Regions from separate parts of the Homo sapiens genome. Here region 1 is linked to region 2. The links come from fine-mapping of genetic effects on gene expression. A gene starts in region 2. The other region holds a variant in brackets. All regions are shown on one strand. Distances are between the middles of the regions.

Region 1 (10,087 bases), 79 kb after region 2:
TCAGTACTTCCAGCGTTTCCAATATGCTTGAATGGTTATGTGGATTTTTTTATTCAGACACAATTTCCTCAAATGTCAACAAAGAAATGCCATTCTGGGTGCAAATATTTTTCTCTCCTATCATCTCCATTAGTTTTTCAACTTTATTAACTATTGAAATTATTAAACTGAGCTATACTGACATCTGCTGGACAAAAATCTGCCTTAATAATTAGACAGATTTAATAACTAGGTAGTTACTATTGAGTAGGAAGCAAAGCTATATTAAACAAAATAGAAAGTAAAACTAAGTTAAACATAGCATCATTAACTTATATGTAATACATCTAAGTAAACATTTCTAAGTCCATTTCTCTAGCTGGTGAAATTGTTATTTCAATTTGGTGGTTTAACACACATTTTCTGTGCACCCATAAGCATTACACACTGCATATACTCAGAGGGTCTGGTGTAGATAACAGGGTCCTTTCTTGAAAGGAGTGGAGGGTCTGGTGGGGAAGACATACTGTATATATAAACAGATATTTTCGCGAGTGTTCTCTCCAAGCTGCCTTCTGTCAGCATCACAGTGGATGGTCCTGTACCCATTGTTCCCAGAACATCTTTGTGCAGGGAACAAACCAGAGCAGGATCATTTTGTCTGTTAAGCAATACAGACATAGTTATTTGGGCATAGGAATTTTTCATGGGCCTATAAATATGGGTGTGTATTCTAAAATGCAACACAACAACAGAAAATTAAGATTACCAAATTTCAAATTAAATGTCTATAGAAAATATAATGTTAACTTCTCTATTTTTAAAACTGAGTATTCATGAATTTTAGGTTAGACACCTTCACTTCTCAGGAATTCCTGGTTATGTGTGATGAGTTCTAAAAAATCACAGCCAATTATTAAAACCATTAAACAATATTTGTAGCCAAATATTGTCAAAAGAAAAAGCATAACAATCTTTTAAAAATTTATTAAAATTTTAATAGAAAAATTAAAGTGAAATGTACATGCACTTTTAATGTACTTGAGGTAACGTGGGGAGAGATTATGATGATCTTTTAATTGCCTTTTAATTGAGCTAAGACAGAAGCTGAGCAGAAAAGGGGTTGGGATGTGCATGCTCTCAAAGGGAGGGTGTACTACAGTTACGGAGAGGAGAAGTCATGAGCAAAAGAACAGAAGTATGACTGATTGACTGACTATAGATCGAATTGGAATAAAGGGATGATTGATATTGAAACAGTGGTTTTCAAACTTGACCAACATCACAATCACTTGGAGGATTTGTTAAGGCATATTGCTATTCCCTGCCTCCAGAGTTTTTGACTTAGCAGGTCTTGATTGGACCCTAGAATGTGCATTTCTGTCAAGTTCTCGGTAATAAAAATTTATGTTGCTGTTCCACACTGCATTTTGAAAACCAATGGTCTGAGATAATATGCAACTTTTTTTGCCTTGAACACCCAGGTATTTGGTAATACTATTAATTGTCTTAGGAAGTTCAGATGAAGGGACAACATAGAGGAGTGGGAAATAGAAAAGATGATGAATTTGGCTTTTTTAAGGAAACAGAAGAAAATCCATCAAAGCCAAACCTACAGAAGGTCTTCTAGTATGCCTCAATAAAATGTGAAAGCAACTCCTGTTATTCAAAGTAATATTATTTTCTTATTTTAAAATCTTATTTTAACTCAAGTTAAAGCATTGAAGTTACCTAAGATGCTAGTATTTGATACATGATACATTGGAATCTGTGTTTTACCCTGGTTTATAAATAGCTTAAAATCCACTTTTATTTATTTATTTTTTATTATACTTTAAGTTCTGGGGTACATGAGCAGAACGTGCAGTTTTTTTACATAGGTATACACGTGTCTTAGTGATTTTCTGCACCTATCAACCTGTCACCTACATTAGGTATTTCTCCTAATGCTATCCCTCCCCTAGACCCTCACCTCTTGACAGGCCCCGGTGTCCATATGTTCTCATTGTTCCCCTCTCTGTGTCCCCGGTGATGCTCCCCTCTCTGTGTCCATATGTTCTCATTGTTCAGCTCCCAATTATGAGTGAGAACATGTGCTGTTTGGTTTTCTGTTCTTGTGTTAGTTTGCTGAGAATGATAGTTTCCAGCTTCATCCATGTCCCTGCAAAGGATGTGAACTCATCCTTTCCATTGGCTGCATAGTATTCCATGGTTTGTATGTGCCACATTTTCCTTATCCAGTCCATCATTGATAGACATTTGAGTTAGTTCCAAGTCTTTGCTATTGTGAATAGTACTGCAATAAACATACGTGTGCATGTGTCTATAGTAGAATGATTTATAATCCTTTGGGTATATACCCAGTAATGGGATTGCTGGGTCAAACGGTATTTCTTGTTCCAGATCCTTGAGGAATCGCCACACTGTCTTCCACAATGGTTGAACTAATTTACACTCCCACCAACAGTGTAAAAGCGTTTCTATTTCTCCACATCCTCTCCAGCATCTGTTGTTTCCTGAGTTTTTAATGATTGCAATTTGATACACGATACATTGGAATCTGTGTTTTACACTAGTTTATAAATAGCTTCTAATTGGTGTGAGATGGTATCTCACTGAGGTTTTGATTTGCATTTTTCTAATGACCAGTGATGATGAGCTTTTTTCCATATGTTTTTTTCTTGACTACATAAATGTCTTCTTCTGAAAAGTGTCTCTTCATAGCCTTCACCCACTTTTTGATGGGGTTGTTTTTCTCTTGTGAATTTGTTGAAGTTCCTTGTAGATTCTGGGTATTAGCCCTTTTGTCAGATAGATAGATTGCAAAAAATTTCTCCCAGTCTGTAGGTTGCCTGTTCACTCTGATGATAGTTTCTTCTGCTGTGCAGAAGCTCTTTACTTTAATTAGATCCCATTTGTCAATTTTGGCTTTTGTTGCCATTGATTTTGGTGTTTTAGACATGAAGTCTTTGCCCATGCCTATGTCCTGAATGGTATTGCCTAGGTTTTCTTTTAGGATTTGTATGATTTTAGGTCTTACATTTAAGTCTTTAATCTATCTTGAGTTAATTTTTCTATAAGGTGTATGGAAGGGGTCCAGTTTCAGTTTTCTGCATATGGCTGGCCAGTTATCCCAACACCATTTATTAAATAGGAAGTCCTTTCCCCATTGCTTGTTTTTGTCAGGTTTGTCAAAGATCAGATGGTTGTAGATGTATGGTGTTATTTCTGAGGCCTCTGTTCTGTTCTAGTAGTCTATATATCTCTTTTGGTACCAGTATCATGGTGTTTTGGTTACTGTAGCCTTGTAGTATTGTTTGAAGTCAGGTATCATGAAACCTCCAGCTTTGTTCTTTTTGCTTAGGATTGTCTTGGCTATGTGGGCTCTTTTTCATTTCCATATGAAGTTTAAAGTAGTTTTTTCTAATTCTGTGAAGAAAGTCAATGGTAGCTTGATGGGGATAGCATTGACTCTAGAAATTACTTTGGGCAGTATGGCCATTTTCATGATATTGATTCTTCCTATCCTTGAGCATGGGATGTTTTTCCATTTGTTTGTGTCCTCTCTTATTTCCTTGAGCAGTGATTTGTAGTTCTCCTTGAAGAGGTCCTTCACATCCCTTGTAAGTTGTATTCCTAGGTATTTTATTCTCTTTGTAACAATTGTGAATGGGAGTTCACTCATAATTTGGCTCTCTGTTCGTCTGTTATTGATGCATAAGGGTGCTTGTGATTTTTGCACATTGATTTTGTGTCCTGAGACTTTGCTGAATTTGCTTATCAGCTTAAGGAGATGTTGGGCTGAGATGGTGGGGTTTTCTAAATATAAAATCATGTCATCTGCAAACAGAGACAATTTGACTTCCTCTCTTCCTATTCGAATACTCTGTTTATTAGCATGAAGGAGCATTGAATTTTGTCGAAGGCCTTTTCTGCATCTATTGAGATAATCATGTGGTTTTTGTCATTGGTTCTCTGTATGTGATGGATTACATTTATTGATTTGTGTGTATTGAACCAGCCTTGCATCCCAGATATGAAGCCAACGTAATCATGGTGGATAAGCTTTTTGATGTGCTGCTGGATTTGGTTTGCCAGTATTTTATTGAGAATTTTTTCATCGATGTTCCTCAGGGATATTGGCCTGACATTTTCTTTTTTTGTTGTGTCTCTGCCAGGTTTTGGTATGAGGATGATGCTGGCCTCATAAAATGAGTTAGGGAAGAGTCCCTCTTTTTCTATTGTTTGGAATAGTTTCAGAAGGAATAGTACCAGCTCCTCTTTGTACCTCTGGTAGAAGTCGGCTGTGAATCCGTCAGGTCCTGGACTTTTTTTGGTTGGTAGGGTGTTAATTACTGCTTCAGTTTCAGAACTTGTTATTGGTTTATTCAGGGATTCGACTTCTTCCTGGTTTAGACTTAGGAGGGTGTATGTGTTCAGGAATTTTCCATTTCTTCTAGATTTTTTAGTTTATTTGCATAGAGGTGTTTATAGTATTCTCTGATGGTAGTTTATATTTCTGTGTGATCAATGGTGATATCCCCTTTTTCATTTTTCAGTGTGTCTATTTGATTCTTCTCTCTTTTCTTATTAGTCTTGCTAGTGGTCTATCTATTTTGTTGATCTTTTCAAAAAACCAGCTCCCGGATTCATTGATTTTTTTTGTAGGGTTTTTGTGTCTCTATCTCCTTCAGTTCTGCTCTGATCTTAGTTATTTCTTGTCTTCTGCTGGCTTTTGAATTTGTTTGTTCTTGCTTCTCTAGTTGTTTTAATTGTGATGTTAGTGTGTCAATTTTAGATATTTCCTGCTTTCTTTTGTGGGCATTTAGTGCTATAAATTTCCCTCTACACACTGCTTTAAATATGTCCCAGAGATTCTAGTACATTGTATCTTTGTTCTTTTTGGTTTCAAAGAACATCTTTATTTCTGTCTTAATTTTGTTATTTACCCAGTAGTCACTTAGGAGCAGATTGTTCAGTTTCCTTGTAGTTGTGTGGTTTTGAGTGAATTTCTTAATCCTGAGTTCTAATTTGATTGCACTGTGGTCTGAGAGA[CTGTT/C]TGTTATGATATCCATTTGATTGCATTTGCTGAGGAGTGTTTTACTTCAATCTATGTGGTCAAGTTTAGAATAAGTGCAATGAGGCGCTGAGAAGAATGTATAGGCTGTTGATTTGGGGTGGAGAGTTCTGTAGATGTCTATTAGATCTGCTTGGTCCAGAGCTCAGTTCAAGTCCTAAATATTCATGTTAATTTTCTGTCTCGTTGATCTGTCTAATGTTGACAGTGGGGTGTTAAAGTCTCTCACTATTATTGTGTGGGAGTCTAAGTCTCTTTGCAGGTCTCTAAGAATATATATATATATATATATATATGCAACAAGAAGAGCTAATATATATATATATATAAACAAGAAATAACTATATATAGTTAACAAGAAATAACTATACATATATAACTATATTTATTTCTTGTTATATATATATATATATATATATATATATATATATATATATATATATTAGCTCTTCTTGTTGCATTGATCCCTTTACCATTATGTAATGCCGTTCTTTGTCTCTTTTGATCTTTGTTGGTTTAAAATCTGTTTTTTCAGAGACTAGGATTACAACCCCTGCTTTTTGCTTTTTTTTGGTTTCCATTTGCTTGGTAAATATTCCTCCATCCCTTTATTTTGAACCTATGTGTGTCTTTGCACATGAGATATGTCTCCTGAATACAGCACACCGATGGGTCTTGACTCTTTTTCCAATTTGCCAGTCTGTGTCTTCTAATTGGGGCATTTAGCCCATTTACAATTAAAGTTAATATTGTTATGTGTGAATTTGATCCTATCATTATGATGGTAGCTGGTTATTTTTTCCGTTTCTGATGCTGTTTCTTCATAGCATTGATGGTCTTTACAATTTGGCATGTTTTTGCAGTAGCCGTTACTGGTTGTTCCTTTCCATATTTAGTGCTTCCTTCAGGAGCTCTTGTAATGCAGGCCTGGTGGTGACAAAATCTCTCAGCATTTGCTTGTCTGTAAAGGATTTTATTTCTCCTTTGCTTATGAAGCCTAGTTTGGCTGGATATGAAATTCTGTGTTGAAAATTCTTTTAAGAATGTTGAATATTGGCCCCCACTCCCTTCTGGCTTGTAGGGTTTCAGCCGAGAGACCTGATGTTAGTCTGATGGGCTTCCCTTTGTGGGTAACCTGACCTTTCTCTCTGGCTGCCCTTAACATTTTTTCCTTCATTTCAACCTTGGTGGATCTGACAATTATGTGTCTTGGGATTGCTCTTCTCGAGTAGTATCTTTGTGGTGTTCTCTGTATTTTTAAAATTTGAATGTTGGCCCATCTTGCTAGGTTGGGGAAGTTCTCCTGGATAATATCCTGAAGAGTGTTTTCCAACTTGGTTTCATTATCCCCATCACTGTCAGGTACACCAATCAAATGTGGATTTTGTCTTTTCACATAGTCTGATATTTCTTGAAGGGTTTGTTTGTTCCTTTTCATTCTTTTTTTTTTTCTAATCTTCTCACTTTATATCATTAAGTTCATCTTCAATCTCTGATATCCTTTCTTCCTCTTGATTGATTTGGCTATTGATACTTGTGTATGCTTTACAAAGTTCTCGTGCTGTGTTTTTCAGCTCCATCAGGTCATTTACATTCTTTAAACTGGTTATTCTAGTTTGCAATTCATCTAACTTTTTTTTTGAGGTTCTTAGCTTCCTTGCGTTGGGTTAGAACATGTTCCTTTAGCTCAAAGGGGTTTGTTACTACCCGCCTTCCAAAACCTGCTTCTGTCAATTCATCAAACTCATTTTCCATCCAGTTTTTTTTCCCTTGCTGGTGAGGAGTTGTGATCCTTTGGAGGAGAAGAGGCTTTCTGGTTTTTGGAATTTTCAGCCTTTTTGCACTGGTTTCTCCCCATCTTTTTGGATTTATCTACCTTTGGTCTTTGATATTGGTGACCTTCGTATGGGGCCTCTGAGTGGATGTGCTATTCCTTTCTGTTTGTTAGTTTTCCTTCTAACAGGCCCGTCTGCTTCAGGTCTGTTGGAGTTTGCTGGAGGTCCACTCCAGACCCTGTTTTTCTAGGTATCACCAGTGAAGGCTGCAGAACAGCAAAGATTGCTGCCTGTTCTTTCCTCTGGGAGCTTTGTCCCAGAAGGGCATCCACCAGATGCCAGCCAGGGCTCTCCTGTATGAGATGTCTCTCAGCCCCTACTGGGAGGTGTCTCCCAGTCAGGGACCCACCTGAGGAGGCAGTCTGACCCTTAGCAGAGCTCGAACACTGTGCTGGGAGATCCACTGCTCTCTTCATAGCCTTCAGGCAGGGATGTTTAAGTCTGCTGAAGCTGCACCCACAGCCACCCCTTCCCCCAGGTGCTCTGTCCCAGGGAGATGAGGGTTTTTATAAGTCCCTGACTGGGGCTGCTGCCCTTTTTTCAGAGATGCCCTGCCCAGAGAGGAGTAATCTAGAGAGGCAGTCTGGCCACAGTGGCCTTGCTGAGCTACAGTAGGCTCTGCCCAGTTTGAACTTCCCCATGGCTTTGTTTACACTGTGAGGGTAAAACCACCTCCTCAAGCCTCAGCAATGGCAGACGCCCCTCTTCCCACCAAGCTCGAGTGTCCCAGGTCAACCTGACTGTTGTGCTGGCAGCGAGAATTTCAAGCCTGTGGATCTTAGCTTGCTGGCCTCCTTGGGGTGGGACCCACCAAGCCATACCACTTGGCTCCCTGGCTTCAGCCCCCTTTCCAGGGGAGTGAATGGTTCTGTCTCACTGGCATTCCAGGCACCACTGGGGTATGGAAAAAAAAATAACTCCTGCAGCTAGCTCAGTGTCTGCCCAAATGGATGCCCAGTTTTGTGCTTGAAACCCAGGGCCCTGGTGGTGTAGGCACTGGAGGGAATCTCCTGGTGTGTGGGTTGCGAAGACTGTGGGAAAAGTGCACTATCTGGGCTGGAGTGCACCATTCCTCAGGCACAGTCCTTCATGGTTTCCCTTGGGTAGGGGAGAGAATTCCCTGACCCCTTGTGCTTCCCGGGTGAGGCGACACCCCATCTGCTTTGGTTTGTCCTCCACAGGCTGCACCCACTGTCTAACCAGTCCCAATGAGATGAACCGGGTACCTCAAGTGGAAATGCAGAAATCACCTGCCTTGTGCATCAGTCTCTCTGGGAGCTGCAGACCAGAGCTGTTCCTATTTGGCCATCTTGCCAGCAGTCTCAAAAATCCACTTTTAATAATGAAATTTAATATAACATTTTCAGAACTGCTTCAGACTTGAGCTTGAAAATGACCAATCTGGCACAAAATTCTCAATGTATGGCAAGTATTGTGAAGCTCAAAGTGGTGAAGTGATATTTAAATGTAAGGTACAATATTGTTAAGTACAATATGGTATAGCAGATGTCTAGAATTTTTTCATCTTGCATGACTGAAACTCTATACTCATTGAACTTCCCATTTTTCCCCTTCCCCCAGCCCCTAGAAACCATCATTCTTCTTTCTGCTATTATGCATTTGACTATTTTAGGTATCTCATATAAGTGGAATCATGAAGTATTTATCCTTCTGTGATGGGCTTATTTCACCTAGTGTAATGTCCTCAAAGTTCATACAGGTTGTAGCATATGTCAGAATTTCCTCCTTTTTTATGGCTGATAATATTCTATTGTATGTACATACCACATTTTCTTTATCCATTTATCCATGGATAGATTATACCACTTGGCTACTGTGAATAATGTTCCAATAAACATGAGAGGACAGATATCTCTTTGAGATTCTGATTTCAGTTCTCTTGGAAAAATATCCAGAAGTGGTATTCCTGAATTACATGGTGGTTCTGTTTTTCATTTTTAGAAGAAACTCCATACTGTTTTCCATAATGGCTACACCATTTTAGATTTGCATTAACCATGTGAAAGCATTCCAATTTGTCCACATCCTTGCCGACACGTGTTATTTTCTGTATTTTTTTTTGTATTTTTTGTTTTTAATAATGGTCATCCTAGCAGGTATGATATGTTACCTCATTGTAATTTTGATTTGCATTTTTCTGATGATTCGTGATGTTGAGCATCTTTTCATATACTTGTTGAACATTTGTATGTCATCTTTAGAGAAGTGTCTATTCAGGTACTTTGCCCATTTTAATTATATATATTTTTTGCTATTGAGTTATAGGAGCTCATTACATGCTTTAGATATTAACCCCTTGCTATTGTCTGAATTTTGTGTCCTTTTAAAATTCATATGTTAAAATCTAATCCTCAATGTGTTTGTATTAAGAGGTAGAACCTTTGGGAGGTGACTAGGTCATGAGGGCATAGCTCTCATCACTGGAACTGGTGCCTTTATAGGACCAACTGAGGGAGCTCATTTGCCTCTTCTGCCATGTGAGGATGCAGCAAGAAGGCACCATCTTTGAAGCAGAGAGAGAGCCCTCATCAGACACAGAATCTGCTGGTATCTTGATCTAGGACTTTCTAGCATCCAAAACTAAGAGCAATAAAATTGTTGTTTATAAATTACCCAGTCTAAGATATTTTGTTACAGTAGCCCAAACAGACTAAGACACCCCTTATTATATACAAACATACCTTGAAGATATTGCAGGTTTGGTTACTGAACACTGCAATGAAGTATTGCAATAAAGTGAGTCACACAAGTTTTTTGGTTTCCCAGTACATATAAAAGTTATGTTTATACTATACTGTAGTATATTAAGTGAGCAATAACATTATGTCTTCAAAAAGTACATATCTTAATTCAAAAATACTGTATTGCTGAAAAAAATCATAATAATTATCTGAGTTTTTTGCTGGTGGAGGGTTTTACCTCAATCTTGATGGCTGCTGGCTGATCAGTGTGGTGGTTGCTGAAGGTTGGGTGGCTGTGGCAATTTCTTAAGATGAGACAACAATGAAGTTTGCCACATCAATTGACTCTTCCTTTCATGACAGATTTCTTTGCATCATGTGATGCTGTTTGCATGTGATAGCATTTTACTCACAGTAGAACTTCTTTCAAAATCAGAGTCAGTCCTCTCAAATCCTGCTGCTGCTCCATCAACTAAATTTATTTAACATTCTAA
Region 2 (10,087 bases):
ATTGATTCAGAGAATAATTATGGAGTTCATAAAGCCCAACCTCAAAGCTAAAGCAAATAGTAGGTGGTTGAATTATTTTTCTATTAGTATATTGATTTAGTGAGATCTGGTTTACGTCTAGCTACTAGCTGTGTGACTACTGACAATTATTTTAGCTTCAGAGAGGCTTAAATACAAAATTAGAGGAATGGATAGGGTAAGATCCCAGCATCTCATTTTTACTGCAAAGTTCTATGGTTTTTGCTTTTTGAAAAGTATATTATTAGTGGCCATCTGTTGAGGGTTAACGTATTCCATGTCCTTTAATCCCCACAACAATTCTGAGGTAGGTATTATTTCACTTTATGGATAAAAAGACTCAGAGGTAAAGTTACATGCTAGTTACCCACAGTAAAAGTGTTAAAAACAAGCCAGCCGTGGTGTGCACACCCATAGTCCCAGCTACTTGAAGGGAGGCTGAGGCAAGAGGATCGCTTGAGCTTAGGAGTTGGAGGCTGCAGTGAGTCACGATTGTTCCACTGCAGTCTAGCCTGGGCAACAGAGTGAGACCCTGTCTCAAAAAACAAACAAAAACACCCATAAAACAAAAAAAAGTGTCAAAAACAGAAGTAGAACCCGGTTTTAATGAAATCTAAACCCTACTGCTTCCTAATGACTAAGGGAAGGATAATGACATGTGAAAAACAACAAGGATCACACCTCAGCTATTCAGTTGTAGTAGAATTAAATTTTGCCTTGTTAAAAAAAAATGATCCAGCCAGGCACAGTGGCTTATGCCTGTAATCCCAGCACTTTAGGAGGCCAAGGCAGGTGGATCATGAGGTCAGGAGTTTGAGACCAGCCTGGCTAACATGGTGAAACCCTGTTTCTACTAAAATATGAAAAATTAGTTGGGCGTGGTGGCAGGTGCCTGTAATCCCAGCTACTTTGGAGGCTGAGGCAGGAGAATCATTTGAACCCAGGAAGCAGAGGTTGCAGTGAGCTGAGATTGCACCATTGTACTCCATCCTGGGTGACAGGGTGAGACTCTGTCTCAAAAATAAATTTTAAAAAAAAGATCCAACTGAAGGTTATGTTTCAGAAGAAGAGGGCCTCAAAGAAGCAAAAGAATTACTGGAATGTTAGCAATGCCAAAGGCAGGGAGATCTTGGGTATACTGTAAATCACAAATTGGAAGAATGCACAATAACTGATCATAAGCCTAGCACTTATCTGAGAAAAGTTTATGTATGTCATTATTCATTAATGGAATCATCACATTTGGAACTTACAAGATGAACTCCTAACAATGGCCAACAAGGCTGGATTTGATCTAGTCTCCACCTGTCTCCCTGAACTCCTCTCAGAGTTCTCTCCACCTTTTTGGTTATATTCTGGCCATTCTGACCTTCTCTCCTAAGGGCCTGACATTGCTGTACTATTTTCTCAGAACACTTTTTCTATATATTCTTTCATGGCTACTACCTAAGATCACTTCGATTTTAATCCAGATGTTACTTTCTCTGAAAGACCTAATGGAATCATGCTATATTAAGTAACCCCTCCTCTGGTTATTACTTAGTCTAGCATCTGTTTTTATTATTCTCATGGACTTTATAATTTTTGAATTTTTATTTGTTTTCTAATACATTTAGGAAGTGAGCTTTATCAGATCAGGGACTCATCTTTCTTGTTCTCCAATGACTCTCCAGCTCCCAACTCACAGTAAGCTGAAAACATTTTTTTAATGGAATGGATGAATAAATGAATGAAAGAATGTTACGGGTTTTGGTGTTGGCAGATATACTTAAATGATTCAAGACAGTTTGGAGCCCCAAAATCTGAGCAAGAGAAAGAATTTGAATATTTGAATAGTTAGAAGAGAGAATGAGGATGAACAAAATTGACTATTAGAACCCATTCTGAAAAGTTAATGGCTTTGGCAGTACTTAGTTGAAGGAAGAAAAAGGTGGCTTAAAAGCAATTTTAATTAATAAAATGTTGCTATTAAGAGAATAGTCGTCAGCTGTTCTTTATATGAAACTAACAGGGATGAGTGAAATAATTTTCGGTTAAAAATAAATAACTTTCTAACTGGGGATTATGAGGTACTCCAAAAATATTTTAAAATGTAAACTGTTTCCTTTTAAGAATAAATGGGTGTTTAAGTGCAAACTTGATAAAGGACTGGGACTGGATAATAAAGATGATTTTTTAAAATGTTTACACTCCTTTCGTCACTAAGTTTTTAACTAGTATTGTTTCTTTAACAGTTAATAAATCCAATACTTGTGTAAGTGAAGACTGGTATTTTTCTTCTTTTGCTCTCAGAGTTACCTTGTTAGAGGTCATGATATATCCAGGGCCAAGCTGGAACCAGTGCTCCGGAATCTTGTTTTATGAAGCAGATAGTAAGTCATGTAGAAATTGAGTCAGCGTGATTCTTTACATGGTTAACATGCTGCTTCCCCTGGAGGTGGGGGTGTAGGATTTCTCAAGGAAGGACATTTATAGTGATTAAAATTGCTCAGAGATTGCTTCACTGGGTAATTCTGATGCTGTAGTATGTGATTCTGGCAAGAGAGAGGGAGTATGAAAGGGACAGAAAATCCCAGACCATGGCAAGAAAGGGCACACGATGCAGAGACTACCTCAAGAAAAGGGGCTGTGGCAGTAAGAAAACAGTAACCGAATGGTCAGACTATTGATCAGAAATCCTTCTTGGTTGCCTCCTGAGAAGGAATTGAGAGCATAAATGTCCAAGGGCAATGACTGCCCATTAACTCACCATCATCCTACAATATTTAGCATAGTTCCAAGAACAAACTGGCAAAAGAGATTTTGGCAGCTGATATTTTTCTGGGAAATTAAGTGGAAAGCACCCTCCAGGACAAAAAGGCCAAGAATAAATACTAAACATGTGCATATCTTAAAAGCCAACAATTTCACTCATAGTCATGTGTCCCCCACAAATGTGTATGTATATGCATAAAGATGTACATAGGTTGGGCACGGTGGCTCACGCCTGTAATCCCAGCACTTTGGGAGGCTGAGGTGGGTGGATCACCTGAGGTCAGGAGTTCGAGGTCAGCCTGACCAACATGGCAAAACCCTGTCTCTATTAAAAATACAAAAATTTAGCGAGGTGTGGTGGTGGGCACCTATAATCCCAGCTACTTGGGAGGCTGAGGCAGGAGAATTGCTTGAACCCGGGAGGCAGAAGTCACAGTGAGCTGAGATCACACCATTGCACTCCAGCCTGGGCAACAAGAGCAAGACTCTGTCTCAAAAAAAATGTACATAAACATTTTTAGCAATGATATTCATAATTGCACAAAACTGGAAACAACCCAAATGCCCATTAGCAATAAAATGGATAGAATATCATATATCCTTGTGATGGAACACTACACAGCAATAAGAATGAACAAACTACAGGTACATGTAATAAGATAGATCAGTGTCACACAGTGTTATGGTTCCATTTATATAAAGTTCAAGACCAAGAGAAACTACCTGATGGTATTCGAAGACAGGATAGTAGTAGAGAGGAGTGTTGGGTAGTGGAGAGGAAGGTCAGGTAGTGAAGGAGCTGGTGTTTACATGAATTTGTTGAAGGAGCTGGTGGTTACATGAATTTGTTCACTTTGTGATAATTCATCAAGTTGTACACTTAAGATTTCTGCATTTTTCCAAATGTATGTTATGCTTTAATACAAAGTTTGATAGGGAGAAGAAATAATACTGCCTTCCAAAGTAAAATGAATGACATTGGGTGGGATAAAAAAAACAGAGGGACCCTGTGTCAAGCCTGTCTTAGGGTCTTCAGACAGCATGAGTCTCGCTGTCTCCATTTTGAAGATGGGCAACAACTGCAGGGATAAGAATAGCCCATGGCTGACAGTGCATTTGCTTCTACTTGTCCTGGTCAAGGTTTTCTAATTCGGGCCCAAGAGAGTATTCATGTCTCCAGGAGGCCACCCTATGGCACGTTAGGCATTCTTGAGAGACTGGCGGCCTCAGTCCTTGTGTTTGGAGCAGTTCTGCTAGAGGAGGAAACAGCACAAAGGGCACTCTTATGCTGCTGTAAACCAGTGCCAGGATTTTTAAAATGTGAGACACCTGTTACCCTGTAAGTATTAATTTCAACTTGAGGTCTCTAGCTTTTTAATTTGCTGGATACATTCTTTTATATGAAATGTGATGGGCATTTCTGACGTGGAAGAAATTGGGACCAGTAAAGCCGGGAAGAAAGCAAAATGGGGTAGCAGGGGCCCTTTTCTCAGCTTCTAATGAAATATTTGTAGTCAAGACCAAGCACACATATTGATTCTCATCAAGTGTGAAATCGTTGGCGGCCCTGGAGGTGAGCCCCACGGGACCATTTGTACCGCACTCTTTCAAATGAACAGATTAAATCTCTCGTAAGATGCTGTTTTTGACACACTCGTACTGCATATATTAAAATCCTCCCTGGTGCCCTTTTGGCGGTTAGGATTCAGGTAGTTCCAGTGCATCACAGCCTGTGTACCAGCTGGAAAGGATATTTTTTTTTTCTTCCCTGGAATGTGTAAAGGAAGAATTATATTGCTGTTTGTTGAAAGAGACTATATGTCTCGCAAGTCCCACTTCAATAATCTTCTAGAAGCAAGAATGAATTTGGGATTGGAAAGGGCATTACAACATGGCTAAATAAATAGCAAGGGGTCTCTCAACACCTGGTTAGCCTGCAATGTTACAATATGACTTCTAGGTCTTACATTTCAGTCTCTTTCTTCAGCAAACAGAGTCTGAAAGGTCTTACACAAAGACAGAATTTTAAGTCTGAACACTCAAGAAATGTGGTCTTCACACTCTAAAGCTGTCACTAATTCCTTGAGAAGCACCAGAAACTTTCTGACTAAACCTTTTTATGTCTTCAATAATGGTTAAATCCAATATACCTTAGGGTTTCCCTCAGATTTAGTCTTCATATTCTTTAGCTTTTGCTAAAGAATTTTAGCAAAATTTCTTATTTTGCATTTCTCTAGCTTCATGACTGGGCTGTCATCATAGGTATATAAGACCATGTACAGGGCTGTGCATTAATATTGCAAGTCTGGAAATTCCAGATATCTTGGCAAAGGGAGAAACAACTTGTGGTTGGAGCTTGGAGGATGAGGAACCAACAAGTTCTGAGTCCTCATGTCTTATGCTTAGGCTGATTCCATTTCTTCCCTCAAATTGTAAATATTTATTTAGGTGTAAAGGAGAGGGCCTATCTAAAGCAGACTGGTGTGTGAGTAGAGTTATTTTCATAGTGTGTCCTCTCCCAGTGATTTATGTTTCCTAGAATATTGATGAAAAATGGATGAGCTCCCGCAACATCTCCTGCCACTCTCCCCCTCACATATTGGACTACAGACATTCTGGCCTTCTTCAGTTCATTCTTTAGTATGATATGCTGTTCTTTCTTCCTGAATTGTTCTTCTAATCTTTCTTTGAATGAATGTTTTTATTCCCTTTCAAGTCTTACCTTAGAAGTAAGTCCTCTCTTCAGAAGGGTCTTACTTATCACCCTATCTAAAGTAGGTTCCACTCCTCTCATCCCATATTGCAATACTTCATTTGGTGGACTCATAGCTTATAATAATTGAATCATTTATTGATTATTGTCCTCACTTAGACTATAAATTCCATGAGACAGTGCTCATGGTTATATTGTTTACTGAATTGATTCTACCTAAGTGTCTATCAACAGAGAAATGGATGTTTGGATAGTGCTATTGTCCTATTGCCATTGTGACAAGGGCTCAGATAAACATGCAAGTGCACATATTCATGTACTGATTTCTTTTTCCTTTGGATAAATACTCAGAAGTAGGATTGCTGGATTGTATGGTAGTTCTATTTTTTGGTTTTTAAAGAAATCGTCATACTATTTTTCATAGTGGTTGTACTAATTTACCTTCCCATCAACAGTGTTTAAGAGTTTCCTTTTCTCTGCATTCTCACCAGAATCTGATATTTTTCATCTTTTTAATGACAGCCATTCTAACTGGAGTAAGATGATATCTCATTGTGGTTTCCATTTGCATTTCTCTGATGCATAGTGATGTTGGGTATTTTTTCATATACCATTTGTATATGGCCATTTGTGTGCCTTACTTTCAGAAATATCTGTTCATATCCTTTGCCCACTTTTTAATATGATTATTTGTGGGGTTTTTTTTGGTTGTTGAATTGTTTGAGTTCCTTGATATTCTGGATATTAATGCCTTGTTGGATGAATAGCTTACAAATATTTTCTCCCATTTTACAGGTTGTCTTTTCACTCTCTTGGTTGTTTCTTTTGATATGCAGAAGCTTTTTGGTTTAATATGCTACCATTTGTCTATTTTAGTTTTTGTTGCCTGTGATTTTGAGGTCTTAGGTGTAAGATCTTTGCCCGGACCAATGTACTGAAGAGTTTTCCCTCTGTTTTCTTCTAGTAGTTTTATAGTTTTAAGTGTTTAAGTCTATAATGTACCTTGAATTAATATGTGATGTAGTGAAGATAGGGGCTTAGATAGAAGATACCTATATTCTTCTGCATGTAGATATCCAAATTTCCCATCACCATTAATTGAAGATACTGTCATTTCCCCAATGGATGTTCTTGGCACATTTGTCAAAAATCAGTAGGCTGTAAATACATGGATTTATTTCTGGATTCTCTATTTTTTTTTTTCTTTCCTGAGAGAGAGTCTTGCTCTGTTGCCCAGGCTGGAGTACAGAGGCAAATCTCAGCTCACTGCAACCTTCGTCTCATAGGTTTAAGCGATTCTCCTGCCTCTCCCTCCTGAGTAGCTGGGATTACAGGTGCATACCACCATGCCTGGCTAATTTTTTGTATTTTTAGTAGAGACGGGTTTTTGCCACGTTGGCCAGACTGAGCTCAAACTCCTGGCCTTAAGTGATCTGCCTGCCTCGGGTTCCCAAAGTTCTGGGATTACAGGCATGAGCCATCGCACCTGGCCTGGATTCTCCATTCTATTCCATTAGTCTATGTAACTGTTTTTATACTAATACTATGCTGTTTTAGTTAAAGTCTTGTAATATATATTAAAATCAGGTAAGGTGATGCCCCTAGCTTTGTTCTTTTTGTTCATGTTGCTTTGGTTTTTGGGCTCTTACTTGGCCCCATGAAAATTTTAGGATTGTTTTTTCTAATTCTGTGAAAAATGACATTGGTATTTTGATAGGGATTCCATTGAAACTGTTGATTGCTTTGGGCAGCATGGCCATTTTAACAATATTAATTCTTCTGATCCATGAGCATGAAATGTATTTCCATTTTTTTGTGTTCTCTTCAATTTATTTCACCAGTACTTTATAGTTTTCCTTGTACAGGTCTTTTATCTTAGTTAAATTTATTCCTAGGTATTTCATTATCTTCTTGTAGCTATTATAAGTGGTATTGCATTCTTAATTTCTTTCTCAGCTACTTCATTATTGTGTATACAAATGCTACTGATTTTTGAAATTGATTTTGTATCCTGAAACTTTATTGAATTTATGAGGTCTAAAACGTTTTTGGTGAAGTCTTTAGGTTTTCCTAGACATAAAATTATATTATTGGTAAAGAGAGAATTTCACTTCCTCGTTTCCAATTTGGGTGCCTTTTATTTCTTTCTCTTGCCTGATTGTTCTGACGAGGATTTCTAGTACTATGTTGAATAGGAGTGGTGAAAGTGGGCATTCTTGTTTTATTATAGTTCTTAGAGGGAAGGCTTTCACCTTTTCTTCATTTAGTATGATCTTAGCTGTGGGTTTGTCATATGTGCCTTCCATTATGTTGAGGTACATCTTTTCTATGCCTATTTTGTTGAGGTTTTTATCATGAAGGGATGTTGAAATTTATCAAATACTTTCTCTGCATTCATTGAAATAATTGTATGGTTTTTATTCTTCATTCTGTTGATGTGAGGTGTCACACTGATTGATTTGCATATGTTGAGCAACCCATGAATCACTGGGATAAATACCTGGGATCATGGTGTATTATTTTTTTGATGTGCTGTTGGATTTGCCTTGCTAGTATTTTGTTGAGGATTTTTGCATTGTGCATCTATGTTCATCAGGGCTATTAGCCTACAGTTTTTTTTAGTGGTTGTTTTACATTCTTATCTGATTTTAGCCTGAGGGTAATTCTGGCCTTGTAGAATGAATTAGAAAGAATTGTTTCCTCTCCAATGTTTGAAATAGTTTGAGGAGAATTGGTGTTAGTTTTTCTTTGAATTCGGTAGAATTCAGCAGTGAAGCCATCTGGTCCTGGACTTTTCTTTGTTAGAGAAATTTTTTTTACTGCTTTGATCTCATTACTTGTTGTTGGTCTATTTGGGTTTTCTAATTTTTTTTATTCAGTCTTGGTAGACTGTATGTGTCTAGGAATTTATCCATTTCTTTTAGGTTTTCCAGTTTGTTTATCTATAGTTGTTCAAATAGTCTCTGACCTATTTTATTTCTGTGGTACCAGGTGTAATATCTTTCTCATTTCTGTTTTCTTTGTTTGTCTTTTCACTTTTTTCCTTGGTTAGTATAGCAAGTAGTTAATTTTTTATTTGTTTGAAAAAAACAACTTTTTGTTCCATTTATCCTTTGTTTTTTTCTGTATCTTATTTCTTTCTTCTCTGATCTTTATTTTTGTTTCTTCTAATTTTGGTTTGGTTTGGTCTTGTTTTTCTAGTTGCCTGAGGTGCATCATTAGATTGTTTATTTTAAATCTTACTATTTTTTGATGTAGGTATTTATGGCTCCAAGCTTTCCTCATAGCACTGCTTTTGCTGTATCTCATAGGTTTTGGTATTTTGTATTTTGATTTCATTCATTTTATTTTTTATTTCCTCCATTTCTTTTTTGACCCAATAATGGTCATTCAGGAGCATATTGTTATTGTTTGCTTTCCATGTATTTGCACAATTTCCAAAGTTTCTCTTACCATTTTTAAAAATTTTAGATCCATGGGGTAAATGTGCAGGTTTATTACATGGCATAATGATGAGGTTTGTGTTTCTATTGATCTTGTTACCCGAATAGTAAATATAGTACCCAATAGAGAGTTTTTCAACCTTCCATCACCCCAACTTCCCTTTGGAGTCCTCATTGTATTATTTCTATCTTTATATCTGTGTGTATCCAATGTTCAGTTCCCACTTATAAGTGAGAACATGATATTTGTTTTTTTGTTTCTGCATTAATTTGCTAAGGATAATGGCCTCCAGTTGCCTTCATGTTGCCGCAAAGGAAATTTCATTCTTTTTTATAACTATGTAGTATATTCCATGGTGTGTATGTACATTTTCTTTATCCAATCCACCACTGATGGGCCCCTACATTGATTTCATGTCTTTGCTATTGTGAATATTACTGTGATAAATATGAGTGCAGGTATTTTTTTAAGCAGAATGATTTATTTTTCTTTGAGTATATAGCCAGTATTGAGACTGCTGAGTCAAATGTAATTGTATTTTTAGTTCTTTGAAAGTCTCCAAACTCCTTTCCACAGGGGCCATTTGCGATAGAAGTGCTACTGATTTTTATACATTGATTTTGTATCCTGAAACTTTACTGAAGTTGTTTATTAGGTCTGGGAGTCTTTTGGCAGGATCTTTTGTTTTTTTTTTTTTTAGATATAGGATTATATCATCAGTGAAGAGAGGTAATCTGACTTCTTCTCTTTCTATTTGGGTGCCATTTATTTCTTTATCTTGCCTGATTGCTCTGGCTAGGACTTCCAGTACTATGTTGAATAGGAGAGGTGAGAGTAGACATCCTTGTCTTGTTTCAGTTCTTAGGGGGAATGCCTCCAACTTTGTCCATTCAGTACGATATTGGCTGTGGGTCTGTCATAGATGGCTCTTATTATTTTGAGACATGTTCCTATAATGCCTAGTTTTTTGAGAGTTTTTATCATGAAGGGACATTACATCTTATCAAAAGTTGTTTCTGCATTTATTCAGATGGTTTTTAATTATTTATGTGGTGAATCACATTAAAATTTTTTTATAATTTCAACTTTTATTTTAGTTTCAGGGGGTACATGTGCAGGTTGTTACAAGGGTATATTGCATGATGATGAGGTTTGGTT

Alleles and levels. Alleles are on the strand shown, and positions count from the first base shown. SD is a standard deviation of normalised expression in the study named.
In carriers of allele C in region 1, the expression in prefrontal cortex of the gene that starts at base 3,989 in region 2 tends to be higher than with CTGTT alone (moderate effect, 0.41 SD a copy in BrainSeq).

The links. PIP is the estimated chance that this variant, and not a neighbour inherited with it, causes the effect. A credible set is the group of variants that fine-mapping cannot tell apart.
Region 1: its variant is the best candidate, but not a certain one, in a credible set for the expression of LANCL1-AS1 in prefrontal cortex (BrainSeq, PIP 0.89).

Annotation. Positions count from the first base shown.
Region 1 is chr2:210,399,446-210,409,532 of GRCh38, forward strand. The region is part of intron 1 of LANCL1-AS1 (LANCL1 antisense RNA 1); the gene reads left to right. Among named protein-coding and RNA genes, the nearest start is that of LANCL1, 72 kb to the right of the region's middle. The variant CTGTT/C (reference allele first, on the strand shown) is at 5,035.
Region 2 is chr2:210,320,724-210,330,810 of GRCh38, forward strand. It overlaps LANCL1-AS1 (LANCL1 antisense RNA 1), which reads left to right and starts at 3,989. Exons shown (of 5, transcript NR_110606.1): 1 at 3,989-4,111.